4 linked regions of the Homo sapiens genome follow. The protein of the gene in region 1 interacts with the protein of each later gene in a pairwise test. Each region holds a gene or a part of one and is shown on either strand. Other genes may lie near its edges.

Evidence for each region.
Region 2: the proteins of CTTNBP2NL (region 1) and STRN3 interact in binary tests that used the Homo sapiens proteins (3 or more experiments, as listed by UniProt).
Region 3: the proteins of CTTNBP2NL (region 1) and STRIP1 interact in binary tests that used the Homo sapiens proteins (3 or more experiments, as listed by UniProt).
Region 4: the proteins of CTTNBP2NL (region 1) and MOB4 interact in binary tests that used the Homo sapiens proteins (3 or more experiments, as listed by UniProt).

The regions. Positions count from the first base shown.
Region 1 is NC_000001.11:112,399,214-112,402,933, reverse strand, and holds part of CTTNBP2NL (CTTNBP2 N-terminal-like protein), read right to left. Parts: intron 1-3,720. UniProt on the Homo sapiens protein: Regulates lamellipodial actin dynamics in a CTTN-dependent manner. Associates with core striatin-interacting phosphatase and kinase (STRIPAK) complex to form CTTNBP2NL-STRIPAK complexes.
Region 2 is NC_000014.9:30,907,712-30,911,431, reverse strand, and holds part of STRN3 (striatin-3), read left to right. Parts: intron 1-269; coding exon 270-391; intron 392-3,720. UniProt on the Homo sapiens protein: Calmodulin-binding scaffolding protein which is the center of the striatin-interacting phosphatase and kinase (STRIPAK) complexes.
Region 3 is NC_000001.11:110,037,428-110,041,147, reverse strand, and holds part of STRIP1 (striatin-interacting protein 1), read right to left. Parts: intron 3,258-3,720; coding exon 3,188-3,257; intron 2,466-3,187; coding exon 2,391-2,465; intron 1,977-2,390; coding exon 1,842-1,976; intron 1,754-1,841; coding exon 1,633-1,753; intron 1,325-1,632; exon of another isoform or gene 1,211-1,324; intron 514-1,210; coding exon 445-513; intron 1-444. UniProt on the Homo sapiens protein: Plays a role in the regulation of cell morphology and cytoskeletal organization. Required in the cortical actin filament dynamics and cell shape. Part of the striatin-interacting phosphatase and kinase (STRIPAK) complexes.
Region 4 is NC_000002.12:197,550,566-197,554,285, reverse strand, and holds the end of MOB4 (MOB-like protein phocein), read right to left. Parts: coding exon 3,640-3,720; 3' UTR 587-3,639; downstream 1-586. Other genes in the region: HSPE1-MOB4 protein, read right to left, coding at 3,640-3,720.

The sequences.
Region 1 (3,720 bases):
GGAAATGATGACTGTGATACGAGACAGGCTGAATGAGAAGTTATTTGACCCCCAAGAGGAACGTGTTAAGAGTCTGTTAGTGTGGTGATGGCTAAGGGTTTAGAAGTGAAGAAGTCTTTGGGGATAGAGCCTTTTAAGGAAATTTATTCTGTGCCCTCAATTTAAGGACAAGAGGCAACAAGATGAAACTGATATATAGGGCTAGACCAGATCATTGTTATACCCTCAAACATTAAGTCAGTTAAGAACTAGATTGGTTCTGTTGTTACTTCTGTAGCACCTGCTGTAACAGAAAGGACTATTTAGCAGAAACCAAGTAATGAGGGCCTCCCTGGAGCCCCCATTCTCCAACAAAAAACCCAGTTTGTGCTTCTTTCTTTTTCCTATAACTTACCTGTCAGTTATCTTTCATCCTTCTCTCCATTATAACTTACAATTCTTATCTCGTGTTAAAACAATTTATCCCTGCTTCTACTTTCTGTTCTCCTTCCCTGGCTCTCACTTTTCTTTTTTTTGAGATGGAGTTTCACTGTTGTTGCCCAGCCTGGAGTGCAATGGCGCGATCTTGGCTCACCACAATCTCCGCCTTCTGGGTTCAAACGATTCTCCTGTCTTGGCCTCCCGAGTAGCTGGGATTACAGGCATGTGCTAACATGCCTGGCTAATTTTGTATTTTTAGTAGAGACGGGGTTTCTCCATGTTGGTCAGGCTGGTCTTGAACTCCCAGCCTCAGGTGATCCACCTGCCTCAGCCTCCCAAAGTGCTGGGATTACAGGCGTGAGTCACCATGCCTGGCCTGGCTCTCACCTTTCTATGGTGAGTAGACCCAGAGCACACTTCAGCTTCAGCCTAGCCTTTCCCAGCAGTTTTGCACAAAGAATCTACGCAGATGCTCCCGAAGCTCACGGTCAGGAGTCTTTGTCTGTAGACCCACCCCATCATCCTGTGCTTTCCTATTTTCCTTTCTTGTTTCTATTAAACTCAGTAACAATTAAGGGTTGCATTCTTTAAATTCAGTAACAATTGAGAACTATATTCTTTGTGGCTCCAGAAGTCAGAAAGGATTCATTAAACAGCAAATGACACATTTAGATTGGAAGTTCTGGCTCTGTACCTGAAATGCAGAGTTTGGAAATAACTGGCAAAGATGAGCCATATTACAGCGCATTGCATTATCTAGTTCAATGCCTCTTTGTAGTCTTGTTTTCTTCAACCCACAAACTCCCGCCTTTCATGTTCCCCCACCTCTACTCAACTCCCCTATCCATGTTTTCTTCTCACTCCAGTTTTGGTTGTTCCTATCATCGCTCCTTACTTTGAGGACAGTGGGGGAGGCTGTCTTCAAAAGTAAGGTAAAAACCACTTTTAATCAAAATTACCATTAAAAGTCCCTTAAATTTCACAGAAGGTATAACTCTGCACGGTAATCACAGTATCTACAAAACCATTTATATGACATTCAGGATGATGCTACTTAAAGATAGTAGAGCTTAGAGTGGAGCAACTGACAATTCAGAAAGAAGACATCGGCTAGCTGAATCCCTTGCCTTTCTTTTTTCCTTGGACCAAAAAACTCAAGAAAGATAATCTGCATGACAAAATTATTAAATACACACACTCCAAGACAGATACACACTCTCCTAAAAATCTTTGGCTCAGATGCTTGAGATCATGACATATGCAAACAAGCTTTGTTTCCCTCTATTCAGGACTTAGTCATATGTTGAAAAATTTAAAACAAAACCAATCAATAACTAAAATCCAACACTAAGTCTTCACCTTTGCTAAAATGCTGAAGGGGTAAAATAATGTTGAATATTAAATTCTTTAACTCACATGCCAAGTGCTAATAATAATACCTGTCAATTACTAAGTGCTTCTTATATCCTGGGTACCTTGCTTTGTGATATGTGCACGTGTATGTGTGTATATTCATGTAATCCTTTTTTTTTTTTTTTTTTTTTTTTGGTGACAGAGTCTTGCTGTGTCACCCAGGCTGGAGTGCAGTGACACAATCTTAGCTCACTACAACCTCCACCTCCTGGGTTCAAGCAAATTCTCATGCCTCAGCTTCCTGAGTAGCTGGGACTACAGGCACGTGCCACCATGCCTGGTTAATTTTTGTATTTTTTTTTTTCTTTGAGACAGAGTTTCGCTCTTGTTGCCCAGGCTGGAGTGCAATGGCACGATCTTGGCTCACTGCAACCTCCGTCTCCCGGGTTAAAGCCATTCTCCTGCCTCAGCCTCCGGAGTAGCTGGGATTACAGGCATGTGCCACCACACCCTGTTAATTTTGTATTTTTAGTAGAGATGGGGTTTCTCCATGTTGGTCAGGCTGGTCTCAAACTCCTGACCTTAGGTGATCCGCCTGCCTTGGCCTCCCAAAGTGCTGGGATTACAGGTGAGCCACTGCACCTGGCAATTTTTGTATTTTTAGTAGAGACAGAGTTTTGCCATGTTGGCCAGGCTGGTCTCGAGCTCCTGGCCTCAAGCGATCCACCCGCTTCGGCCTCCAAAAGTGCTGTGATTACAGGTGTGAGCCTCCGCACCTGGCCTATTCGTGTAATCCTTAAAGAAACCTCTCCAAGTTATTTCTATCTCACAGCTGAGGAAACAGACTGAGCTACGGTGAAGACAGAAAATTTTTCTCTTGCCCTGGATCACACAGTGAACAGTAGCACAGTTGGGATTTGAACCTAGGTTTGCCTTTAAAGTCTGTGTTGTAAATAATTACATTCTCCAGGCTCATGATAAGTAAGCCATTTTCTCACTAAAAGGCTTTAAATTGAACTTTGGAAGATTTAAATTTTAGTTATTAGCAGCAAATATTCAGAAACTTTAATTTTGTTAATTTTTTATTTTTTGAGATGAAGTTTCTCTCTTCTTGCCCAGGCTGGAGTGCAATGGCGTGATCTCGGCTCACTGCAACCTCCGCCTCCTGGGTTTAAGCCATTCTCCTGCCTCAGGCTCCCGAGTAGCTGGGATTACAGGTGACCATCACCATGCCTGGCTAGTTTTTGTATTTTTAGTAGAGAAGGGGTTTCACCATGTTGGCCAGGCTGGTCTCAAACTCCTGATCTCAGGTGATCTGCCTGCCTCAATGTCCCAACGTGCTGGGATTACAGGTGTGAGCCACCATGCTCGGCCAAATATTCAGAAATTTTAAAATGGCCTTTAGAAAACATGCTAATAAGCCACTCCTGGGGCCAACCAGCATAGACTGAACAAATTTCCTCTAGAAGCATATCTCTGCTTCCTGCTTCATGACGTCAAACACCAGTTAGATGGAAACCCCCAAGAAACACCATTCTGCTCCACTCAGAAAAACCAAGAATTCAAATCCTACGCTGCAAATCAACTGGTAGCACTGCAAATGTGATTCTGCCAAGATACAAATCCAGAGAAGACTGATTGTATTATGCCCACCACAATCAATAATCAGCCTGTATAATTACACTTAGGGACCCAAGGCTGTTCTGTGCTCCGTTCCTATTTTTAGTGTTACTTTAAAAACACAAAATCAACTAAAAATCCATTTTAAAAGTCCCAAAGTAGATCAATAACTTGTCAAAACCAAACACTCAGAAACTATTCTTTTTTTTTTTTTTTTTTTTTGAGACAGAGTCTCGCTTTGTTTCCCAGGCCGGGGCGCAGTGGTGCAATCTCAGCTCACTGCAAACTCTGCCTCCTGGGTTCAAGCAATTCTGCTGCCTCAGCCTC
Region 2 (3,720 bases), on another chromosome or scaffold:
AACTCAGTAGGCTGAGGCAGGAGAATCGCTCGAACCTGGGAGGTGGAGGTTTTACTGAGCAGAGATCACCACTGCATTCCAGTCTGGGCTGGTGACAGAGTGAGACCCTGTCTCCAAAAAAAAAAAAAAAAAAAAAGTACCAGTCAGGTGTACATGTTCTCTTAAAACAGTTTTTAGATATTACATAAATTCAGAGGTTGGGGGAATGGAGATTTGAGTTTCTTCTTAGAATTTATCAGTAATTTGTTTTTCCTCTCTTCCTACAATAGCGGCCCTGTTCTGTCATTAGCTATTAGTTCTAATGGAGAACAGTGTTTTAGTGGTGGTATTGATGCAACCATCCAGTGGTGGAATATGCCGAGTCCCAGTGTAGATCCATATGATACATATGGTAAGTAAAATGATCAAAATGTATTTTTTTTAAGTGAATGGAGCTGACAAAAGTAAATACCTCAAATATGATTACAAGGTTATTTAAACCTATATTAGTCACCTCATTTAGTTCTTCCATTTGCTAATAAATTGCTTTATTAAAGAGAAAAATTAGGAAATGTCATGCCATGGGTATTTAAGCCTATGAATTGATACTTTCTCTGTTGTTTAAAAAACTATATTAATTAAAATGTTAATTTAGGTAGTAGTTACAAAAAGAAGGAGGAAACAAAATGTAATCTAAGTAACAAAATTTTGAACTTAAGAAATAGTTTATATATTTTAAAAATATTAAGCAAAAGACAATGGAACCAACATCAGGGGTATAAATCATTAAAACTTTTTGGAGCCAAAAATTTTTTTTGTTATTCTTAGCTCATATCTACAAAAACATTCTTAATTTCAAAATGGAAGAAAAAAAAAAAGAAAGGAAACCTCCTTTGACTTGCAAATGTAGCTTTTAGAAATCTGTTCTACAGAAACACCTACCTGTACCTGTGTTCAAATATATTTGTAAGGGCACTGTTAATAATTATAAAACGTTAAAACAAAATGTTTATGAACTCTTTGTTCTTTTTATTTAACACACACATTGTGCCTACATTAGCTAGGCATTGTGGTAAGCACTATGTCAAGAAATAAGATTTAGACTAATGGAAAGTAGAGACATAAAACAGATAAGCGAAGGGATGGGATCTATGGTTACAAATTGTGATAAATGATAAGAAGATAGAGTACTGTTGAGAGGGCGTAACAGGCAGAACCTTCTCTAGAAGAGTTAGTCAAGAAAGGTCTTTCTAAAATAGTGACATTCAAGCCAAAATCTGAAGGATAAGAGGAAACTTTCAGTAAAGAGTTTTAAGCCAGAAAGTTATCTGATAAATGTAAGGTTTTAAAAAGGTGACTGTGTCTGTTGTGAGAAGAATAAATTGGGGGCGAGAAGAGTGGAAAGAGAAATACCAGTTAGGAGGCTGCTGTCATAAAGTAGTCCAGTAAACTAGGTGACAAACGACATTGCCAAGATTAGAGTGGTGGTAGCACAGCATTTAGAAGTGGTTTTAAGATACGCTGAGGGAGTGTGGTAGAATAGACAGGATTTATTGATAAATTATGTTGAGTAGATAAAGTGATGGGTGAGTGACTCTTAATTTGTATGTGTTTAACTGCTTTACTGAGATAATTTACATATCACAAAATTCACCCTTTTAAAGTATACAGTTCAGGCTGGACACAATGGTCCATGCCTGTAATCCCACCACTTTGGGAGGCCGAAGTGGGTGGATCACTTGAGGCCAGGAGTTCAAGACCAGCCTGGGCAACACAGTGAGACCTCATGTCTGCCAAAAATTTAAAGATTTGCCAGATGGGGTGTCACATGCCTATAGTCCCAGACACTCGGGAGGCTGAGCTGGGAGGATCACTTGAGTGTGAGAAGTAAAGGCTGTAGTGAGCTATGATGGTGCCAGTGTACTCCAGCCTGGGAAGAGAGTGAGACCCAATCTCTCTCTCTCTCTCTCTTTCTTTTTTGGAAACAGTCTTGCTCTGTCTCCTAGGCTGGAGGGCAGTGGCGTGATCTTGGCTTACTGCAACCTCCGCCTCCCAGGCTGAGGAGCTGGGACCACAGGTGTGAGCCACCACACCGCACTAATTTTTGTATTTTTTGTAGAAATGGTGGCCATGTTGCCCGGGGTGGTCTTAAACTCCTGGGCTCAAGTGATCTGCCTGCCTCAGCCTCCCAAAGTATTGGGATCACAGGCATGAGCCACTATGTGCAGCCACAAGACCCCATCTCTAAAAAAAAATTAAAGTCTACAGTTCAGTAGTTTTTACTATGTTCACAAAGTTGTACAGCCATCATCACTAATTTCAGAACATTCACAAAGTTTTACAGCCATCATCACTAATTTCAGAACATTTCAAACATTCAGAACATTCAGTCCTGTTTGATGTGAGTAACTGAGCATGTGATGGGAGCATTTATTGAAACGAGGACAGAACAGGTGTGAGGAGATTTAAGATGGTGAGTTCAGATTTTAGGCATGTTAAAGGATGACAAATATCAAGTAGGTAATATACAAATAAGGAGCCCAAAGAGATCTCGATTGAAGTTAAAAACATGGACAGTCTTCTCTATACAAATAATACATTAAACTATAAGAATGGGCAATACTGGGGGAGTGTATTGTTTGGTGTAAGAAGAGAAGACAACCTGGGACTAAAGTCCTCAGTAACTCTGACACTGGAAGAGTGGCTAGAGCAAGAGAGCCAAGAAAGGAAACTGAGGAGGTGTGACCCAAGAGACAGAAGGAAGTGCAGGAGAGGGTGCGAAATCATGGAAGCGCACACTAAAGAAGAAACAATTTTGAGAAGAAAGAAGCAGTCTGCACTTTCGAATGTTGCTGAGAGGTCCAATAATATGATATAAAGTTTCCTTTTTATAAGTGACTAGCAGGTCACCCAGGTCTTGGCCAGACAGAGTTTGGACGCTGCAGCTAAGACTGAAGAATGAAGGGACCTCTGGATAATCTTTCATGTCAGACTATATGGATGAAAAGCAATATAATGGGAACAACAACAAAATGTTTTGTATCATCAAAGAAAAGTATTAAATTTGATAGTGTAGGGATCATCATTAGCAAGGATTGTTTTGGTGTGGTAGTGGTATCAGAAACCAAATTGGAGTGATTTGAAGAGTAAACAGGAAGTGAAAAGCATATTTCTATTGCTGGGTGGAAGGGGTGGTAGGATAGGATTAATGAAGATTTTTTGTTGAAGAGATTCTGGAACAAGTTTTTTTTCACTATGGTAATGATTCCAAGGAGGAGAATTTGTGTAGTAGAGAAGCAGTAAACATTACAGCAAGTTAGTGACATCTGGTATTAGCCTTTGATAGGATGGAGGACAGATTCCTTGCTTGTATCTGGAAGCTAGGAGAAGATACCTTTAGACACTAATCATTTATATATTACGCAGCAAGAAGATGGGGGATAAGAAACATGCAGCATTATTTGAATGCTATATTTTCTCAGTGAAATATGAGGCATAGTCATTCATGAGGAAGAGAGGTTGGGAGCTGTGAGAATTGTGGAGATGATAAGAACCATTCATGGAAAGTGGGAGGAGTTTACTAGAAAAACAGGATTGTCAGACAAATTATGCTCAATGTTATCAGCTGTCAAATGTCTGTCAGTTAAGGAACAGATAAATAAAATATGGTATATCCATACAGCAGAATATTATTTGGCACTAAAAATAAATGGAGTACTGATACATGCTCCAACATGGATA
Region 3 (3,720 bases), 2.4 Mb from region 1:
GGTGATCTTGGTGGTCAGCAGTTGCTGTGAGCTCCTGGGCAGCCATGAAACATTAGGAAGCTGTCAGGTCTAACCCAATGAAGATGAGCATCAAGCTGTGTACACAAGAAGGTGGGAGTCCAGGGAACACCATCAAGTGTTTCATCCAAATACAAAATACCCCACGACCAGGTCCTGAGTAACAGTGTGAGTAGGAGGCCACACTTAGCTGTGGCTCTAGTAAGTCACTTGACCCTGGATTGCCTTTGGGAGTCTCAACCCAGAGTCCCACCTAGGACGAGCCCTCAGCAGTTCCTACTAATCATTCACACTGAGCCCATCACACATGCAGATGATGTGTACAGAAGCACACACAGCAATGACACCCACAGACAGCCTCCCACACCCTGCTCTGATCTCATCTCTGACTAACGCTCAGGAGCCCAGGCTTGCTGCTCGCCTCACCTGAGGTCTGTGCTGTCAGCCAGGGAGATGGCAGGCTTCCTCACAGCACTGCTGCAGGCGGCACTGTTGCTGCAGGAGATTTTGAGAGTCAGCATCTTCCTCCAAGAAGGAAGATAAGTGATGTCCCTGACAAGTACTGACCAATGGGGAAACAAAATGCTGTGATACGTGCTTGGACTGCACAAGAGGCCACAGGACACGGTGGTTAAGAAACCAGACCATGGCTGGGCATGGTGGCTCATGCCTGTAATCCCAGTACTTCGGGAGGCCGAGGCGGGTGGATCACCTGAGGTCAAGAGTTTGAGACCAGCCTGGCCAACATGGCGAAACCCCATCTCTACTAAAAATACAAAAATTAGCTGGGTGTGGTGGCAGGCACCTGTAAACCCAGCTACTCAGAAGGCTGAGGCAGGAGAATAGCTTGAAGCCGGGAGGTGGAGGTTGCAATGAGCCAAGTTCACGCCATATCACTCCAGCCTGGGCAACAGAACAAGACTCTCTCTCAAAAACAAAAACAAAAACAAAAAAAACACAAAAACAAAAACAAAAAACCCAGCCATGCACTGGACTGCCACGGTTTGAATCCTGGCTCTAACTGCGCCTTAGTTTCCTCATCTGTAAAATGGGGATGACAGTAGTACCTATATCCTTAACATGAATTAGCACATGTAATATTCTGAGAACAATGCCCGGGACACACAGGCACTCAATGAGCTGTCTTAGCTTTATCATTGATGGTGTTATCCTTAGATGAGCAGCAGCTGACCTGTCCACTGGACAAAGGTGACACAGGCAAGGCCAGGCACTGGTTGAGCCCATATGTCAGTCTTGTGCCTGGCCTCCTGCCAAGGCGGAAACTGCAGGGCGAACACAGCAGTGTCTGCAGGTTCAAAAGAGAGCTCAAAGTGAAGAGTCTCCTTCTGAGGAGCACCCCAGGCCTGGGCAGGGCCTGCACTGTCTGGTGTAAAAACTCTGGCATCAGGGAGCTGCAGGGACCTGTCATTAGTCTCCATTAATCTTCAAGGTGTAAGTGACCAACTCCGTTATTCAACCCAGGTGGTCAGAACACAGCCTGGGACCAGAACTTCTGCCCCATTTAACCCTCTCAAAGCCAGTTAGTTCTGCAAGCTCTGTCCCCCTTCCCATCCCAGCCTCCCCTTCCCTACTCAGCCTCTCAAAAATGCTCACTCTATTTCCATGTTCAGAAGCTCCACCAAAGCATTGAACGTGCCCACCTCCAGGAGGAGAAAGATGTTGTAGCGCATCCAGGACTGCACCTCTGCCTCCGAGCTGCACTCCCCAAACGTGCCTGCAATGCAGGGTTCAACTCACTGAGCCCCTCCCTGCATCTGAGTGGGCAGAGGTGCCAGGGAACCCTGGGGAGGTCCACTCAATACCTTGAGCAACATAGAGAATTGCTCGAGCCACCTTGAGTCTCTTCTCCCTGGCAGTGACTTCCAAGCCATCCAGGAGCCTCATGGCATGGGTCCGGTGCTGGTTGGTATCCAGCTCAGTCCACTTCTTGTCTGTCACTGCAGGGCAAGAAACCAGTTACACCTGAGCCTAGAAAAATCCTCACAATGGCATGGACCCATGTTAACTCACCAAATTCAGGACTGCCATAGGACCAGAAAGATAAGTTACACCCTATGTAAGTGGTAAGATCATACTGCTGCTCTATGAATTTGATTCCAAACTGAAACGCTGGTATTTTGGGTGCAATTTTAATCACATGATTTTTTTTTCTCCCCTAATATGCACATTCTGAAAAGCCCCCACCGATGTGCCACAAGCCCACTCTACATGTATCTGGCTTTGAACCATCAGGGTTCAGCAGGCTTCTCAGGCTGTTCCAGGATGACTCAGGTCATTCAGATGCCTAAAAGAAACCTGCAGCTCTCGTTATGCAGGGCAAAGGAAGCAAGAAGTGTGGGAAATCATCTCACCATGGATCCGGAAGTCCTCCTCAAAGCATTTTCGATTCATCAGGAATTCTGGCCCTTCCGTGTAGCTGTAAAGCTCTGTCAGAACAAAGTCTCGTCACCATTGGTTCCATGTCTGCATTGCACACCAGGTCTCACAAGTGCAGAGAAGGCAAGGCATTTGCTTCCACTCTCAACTCTGCCCCTGAGTCATAGTGACTCCTGGAATAAGCTCTCTAATTATGAAGGGGATCTTAGTGCTCTGATGTGCACAATAGAGACAACCAGAGTGCCAGAATGCCATCTGGACACTTCCAGTCCGATGTGCATCCATCCCACCATGCCATGCCAGGGCTGACGGCCACCTGGGATGCATCTCTCAAATGGCTGCTACCTCTTGAGCAGGATGTGTATTGTAGAGGCTGGAGAAGCAGCTCACACCGACCTCGCATTACATGAGAGTGGCAGTGGCAGCAGCAGATGGGCACAGATGCAGGCATCCCTCATGACCCATTGCTGGAGGAGAGACCACTGTCAGGGTCACAGTGGATAGCCAAGGAACATCACTGTCTCACAATGGGACTGGGCTCTAGCCAGCTTCATAAAAGTAAAGGACAACACAAAGTTATAAGATACACAAGGCTTGAATCAAATAACATGTTTTATACATATATATATATATATATATATATATATATATATATATATATTTGATAGAACTAGGGAAAGCAATGAAGCCCTAAATGATATTCATTATTAATTTTATTAAAGACCAATAAGGAAAAAACCACCCCCAAATAACACAAAGGTCTGTGCGTTACCCGAGAGCTCTGCAGCCCACTTGTCTGTGTCAGCATACTCAAACTCCAGGTCTGGTGACTCCGAATAGCCCTGCTGACAAGAGGAGAGAGCTTTAGGAAAAAGGATCATTCTATTTATCAAAGAAACTCATGCTTCGAGATGCTGTTGTGTTACAGGACACCACTGCCTCCACTTTTTTATGTTTTTTCACATTTTGTTTCCTAAAACCTCTCAGAGTATCCTATACTTTTCCTTCAGAGCATTTATCATAACTTATCATTATAGGATGTGTTTACTGTCTGCCTTTCCACAAGACTGTAAGTTCCCTGAGAACAAGAACATCATCCATTTAACTTACCAATGATTTCACAAGGTCCAGCATGGTACCTGGCATGAATAAGTGAATGAATGAATGGTCTATACACACATATTTGTTAAATGAATAAATACAAGGTTTCTATGTATTTTGTGCAGTAAATGACCATTCCATATGATGCTATGATTCCAGAAGTCTTAACTTCTTTCTGGCTAGTGGACTGTCAACAGCTCAGGA
Region 4 (3,720 bases), on another chromosome or scaffold:
CTCCAGCCTGAGTGACAGAACAAGACTCCGCCTAAAAAAAAAAAAGTAGCAGAAAAGTCATACAAATGAAGAGTAAGGCTCCACAATGAACCTATTATTAGATAGGTAATCTAACCCTCTAGAGGATTCACTTGGTAGCTTTCCGGTTTCATAGTGTACTCTATACTAATAATGCATATTTTTTCAGGAAAACAGATTTGAATGTTCTTATCATCTCAAATAAACTGCTAAGCATATTGCACAAATACGTTTTTTTTTTTTTTTGAGACGGAGTCTTACTCTGTCGCCCAGGCTGGAGTGCAGTGGTGCAATCTCGGCTCACTGCAACCTCCACCTCCCAGGTTCAAGCTATTCTTCTGCCTCAGCCTCCCATGTAGATGGGATTACAGGCATGCATCACCACACCTGGCTAATTTTTGTATTTTTTTAGTAGAGATGGGGTTTCACCATGTTGGCCAGGCTGGTCTTGAACTCCTGGCCTCAAATGATCTGCCCACCTTGGCCTCCAAAGGGCTGGGATTACAGACGTGAGCCACTACATCTGGTCCATATGTATTGTCTGTTAACAATGAGATGCTTGAAGAAATAAAAATCAACTACTTTTACTAAAATATTCGCATAGCATGGAAGAACTACACAAAGAAACCTTTAGCACATTCAACAAGGATTCACAAAATAAAGTATATACAATTTAAAATTTAGCTGCTCAAAAAAGATGTCATCATATAGACAGTAGGGCAAAGTACTCACATAAAAAACTTAGTTCTACTATTACAGTGAATTTGACATCAACCAATAAATGTGTTTATAATCGTAACACAGTCCTTACTAACAATGTAATCAAGGATTTTTTTTTTTTGAGACGGAGTTTTTGAGACGGAGTTTTGCTCGTTACCCAGGCTGGAGTGCAATGGCACGATCTCAGCTCACCGCAACCTCCACCTCCCGGGTTCAAGCGATTCTCCTGCCTCAGCCTCACGAGTAGCACCACGCCCGGCTAATTTTTGTATTTTTAGTAGAGACAGGGTTTCTCCATGTTGGTCAGGCTGGTCTCGAACTCCTGACCTCAGGTGATCTGTCTGCCTTGGCTTCCCAAAGTGCTGGGATTACAGGCGTGAGCCCCTGTGCCTGACCAAGGATTTCTAATTGTATTCTGATAGTAAAAGTTGTTAAGTCATCAAGAATTTAACTGAGAAACTGTTCTAGAAATCCAAATTTGACATCTCAAGTCAGAGAAAAGGAAATGTATACACACAAAAGAAGGGTTACTTATGGGAACATAAATAGTTAAAAGTTAGCTACTTTCCCAGATGTGATAGGAGAAAAAGAATGAATTGACTATACGATCTTTTGGAAAGAAAAGCCTAAGTTTACCTTCGGATATACATAGGGTAATTCAAACAAAAAGTGGAGCCTAACTTCCTTATCACACAGAACTGTCTTGTTCCCCTCTTAGAACACTTACTTTTATAAATCAATGGTTTGCCAGGCTCATTAATTTTTTAGTAGTATTTATGTATATATAAGTACATTTTCAAAATTCTGAAAACAGTATTAAGGAAAAACAGGAACTGTTTCACTTAGGTCTTACCTAGTATAGTAGTGAATCAACTTCACAATTAGTAAGATTATCAACATGAATACAAAAGCAAGACTACAAACTGATTATTTTCTTTTGGAGATGTTTTATGATCAATTCCAAACATACAGTACAGGGAAGGTGAAATGAGTAAGAAAAAAAAATCATATTTAAGTCCCCGTTAACACTAAGCCATATTATTCAAAATGTGTTTCAAAATACTCAGCCAGATCACCAAATCTCAGTCACTACCTTAGTATAAATATTCACTAAGAAAATAGTCAAGCAACAGAAATCCATTGTGAGACACCATCTAGAGAGAACAGCTACACTGCTATATATAATTTATTAACTTAGTAGTTTAGTTTCTCAATATTTAGCAAGTTTAAAAATTACCATTACCATTGGTTTATAGTGCCATTAATATAAATCCATAATTTCAAAGTCATCATTCCTTTCACTGTGAACTAAGACTTCTTAAAAGATAGTTGTGGGTTGGGGAACAGTAATGACTGTAGCTGATGGGCAGTGTTCAAAGCCAAAAAGACTGGCAAGCTTGGAAAGGCATACACTATACATACACACACTCTCAGTATACTACTGTTCCCCTTATTTTTGCTGTACATTCTTGTCTGAAAAGATGGTATAAATTATTCCCTTAAATTTGAAAAAACAATTAAGATGAATACATTTTCATCTTCAAAATTATCCTTCTAAATAAAAAAGTTCCTCATGTTTGTTAAATCTGTTCAAAAGTTGGATTTAAATACTTTCTTCACAACATGTACAATGTTTTCACCCTTACTGCCTCATTACAATCAGTTTGGCAATAAGACCTCCAGTGCTTTATCAAAAATGGCATTCAATAGATTATAAGATTGTTAAATCTGCATTTCAATCATTCTTACCACAATGAATTATAACAAAGTCCAAAAAAATGTATGACTATTCATCAACACCCTTGGAACCTATGAATTATTGCAAATAATCTCACACGTGCATGTAATCCAAACATAAACTTCGTGGGAGAGGGGGTGTAAAATAAATACTATGGTATTTCTTCAATTCTATTTAATGCTGCCTAGCTGGTTAAATGAAAGATTAATATATTACTAACAGGAAGAGTCAAACTATTTTAAGGACTGTTTTCTAAGTAGAACAATTTTGCAAAACAAAGATAAGCAAGAGCCTATGCAAATACATTTTCTTGTAGTGTAATGTAATTGCTAATATGAGGTATAATCTGTAAGCAATTAATACAAATATAAATAGGTATAAGCCACCACTAACTCAGTCTGGTGAAAAGCTTCTCAGCTAAAGTAGTTTGAAGATAAGGTTAAGGGAAATGAGAAGGGGTGGACAGGGCAGGTTTCCAGTGGGAAAATAATTTATGTGCCTTACCATTGTGATCATCCTGTATGTACCAGTCCGTTGTTGCAGAACGGTAAATCCTTTCCAAGTATGTTATACTTTATGTAGCACAGTAAAATTATTTAAGTATTACTAATGCTTCATTTGCATTTGTATTTAGATATACACATAATTATATATGCATATCAAAAACTATAAACAGAATTTTAAAACACTTTTATCTCAATTGGGGAAAGTTAACAGGTAAGACAAAACTACGTACTACAGAATTTTTTAGGATATCTAAACTCAAGGTAAAACCAATAGAAAACATTTCTACCTCTTTAGTAAATGGCTTGTGTGAAACCTCAAGCTCTCCCTCATTTTTTTTACAGATGGGTTTGTCTGATGAGGATTGTGATCCAATGATTGTTTAGCAGCAATTTTACCAAACTGTAAATTCTTTTATTAACAGGCATTATAAACAGATAATACTAATCTTATTTAAAAACCATGAGTGCCACACTGGTGAATATACAGCTTATGAATAACTTAAAAAGTATTTCCCATTTTAAAAGGCAAACCCAGCATACAAAAACCTATACTAAACAAAGAAGCTATAATATGGATACATGATTGATGTGTCTAAAATGATATATACAGTACATAATGTTAATTATATGATCAGTACATTTTTCCTATGATTCCCTTCATGCTTCACTTTCCCCAGAAACTGAATTCTGTACTTCCTCTTCTAAAATTGGTACAATCAGGTTATCCTTGGACATCAA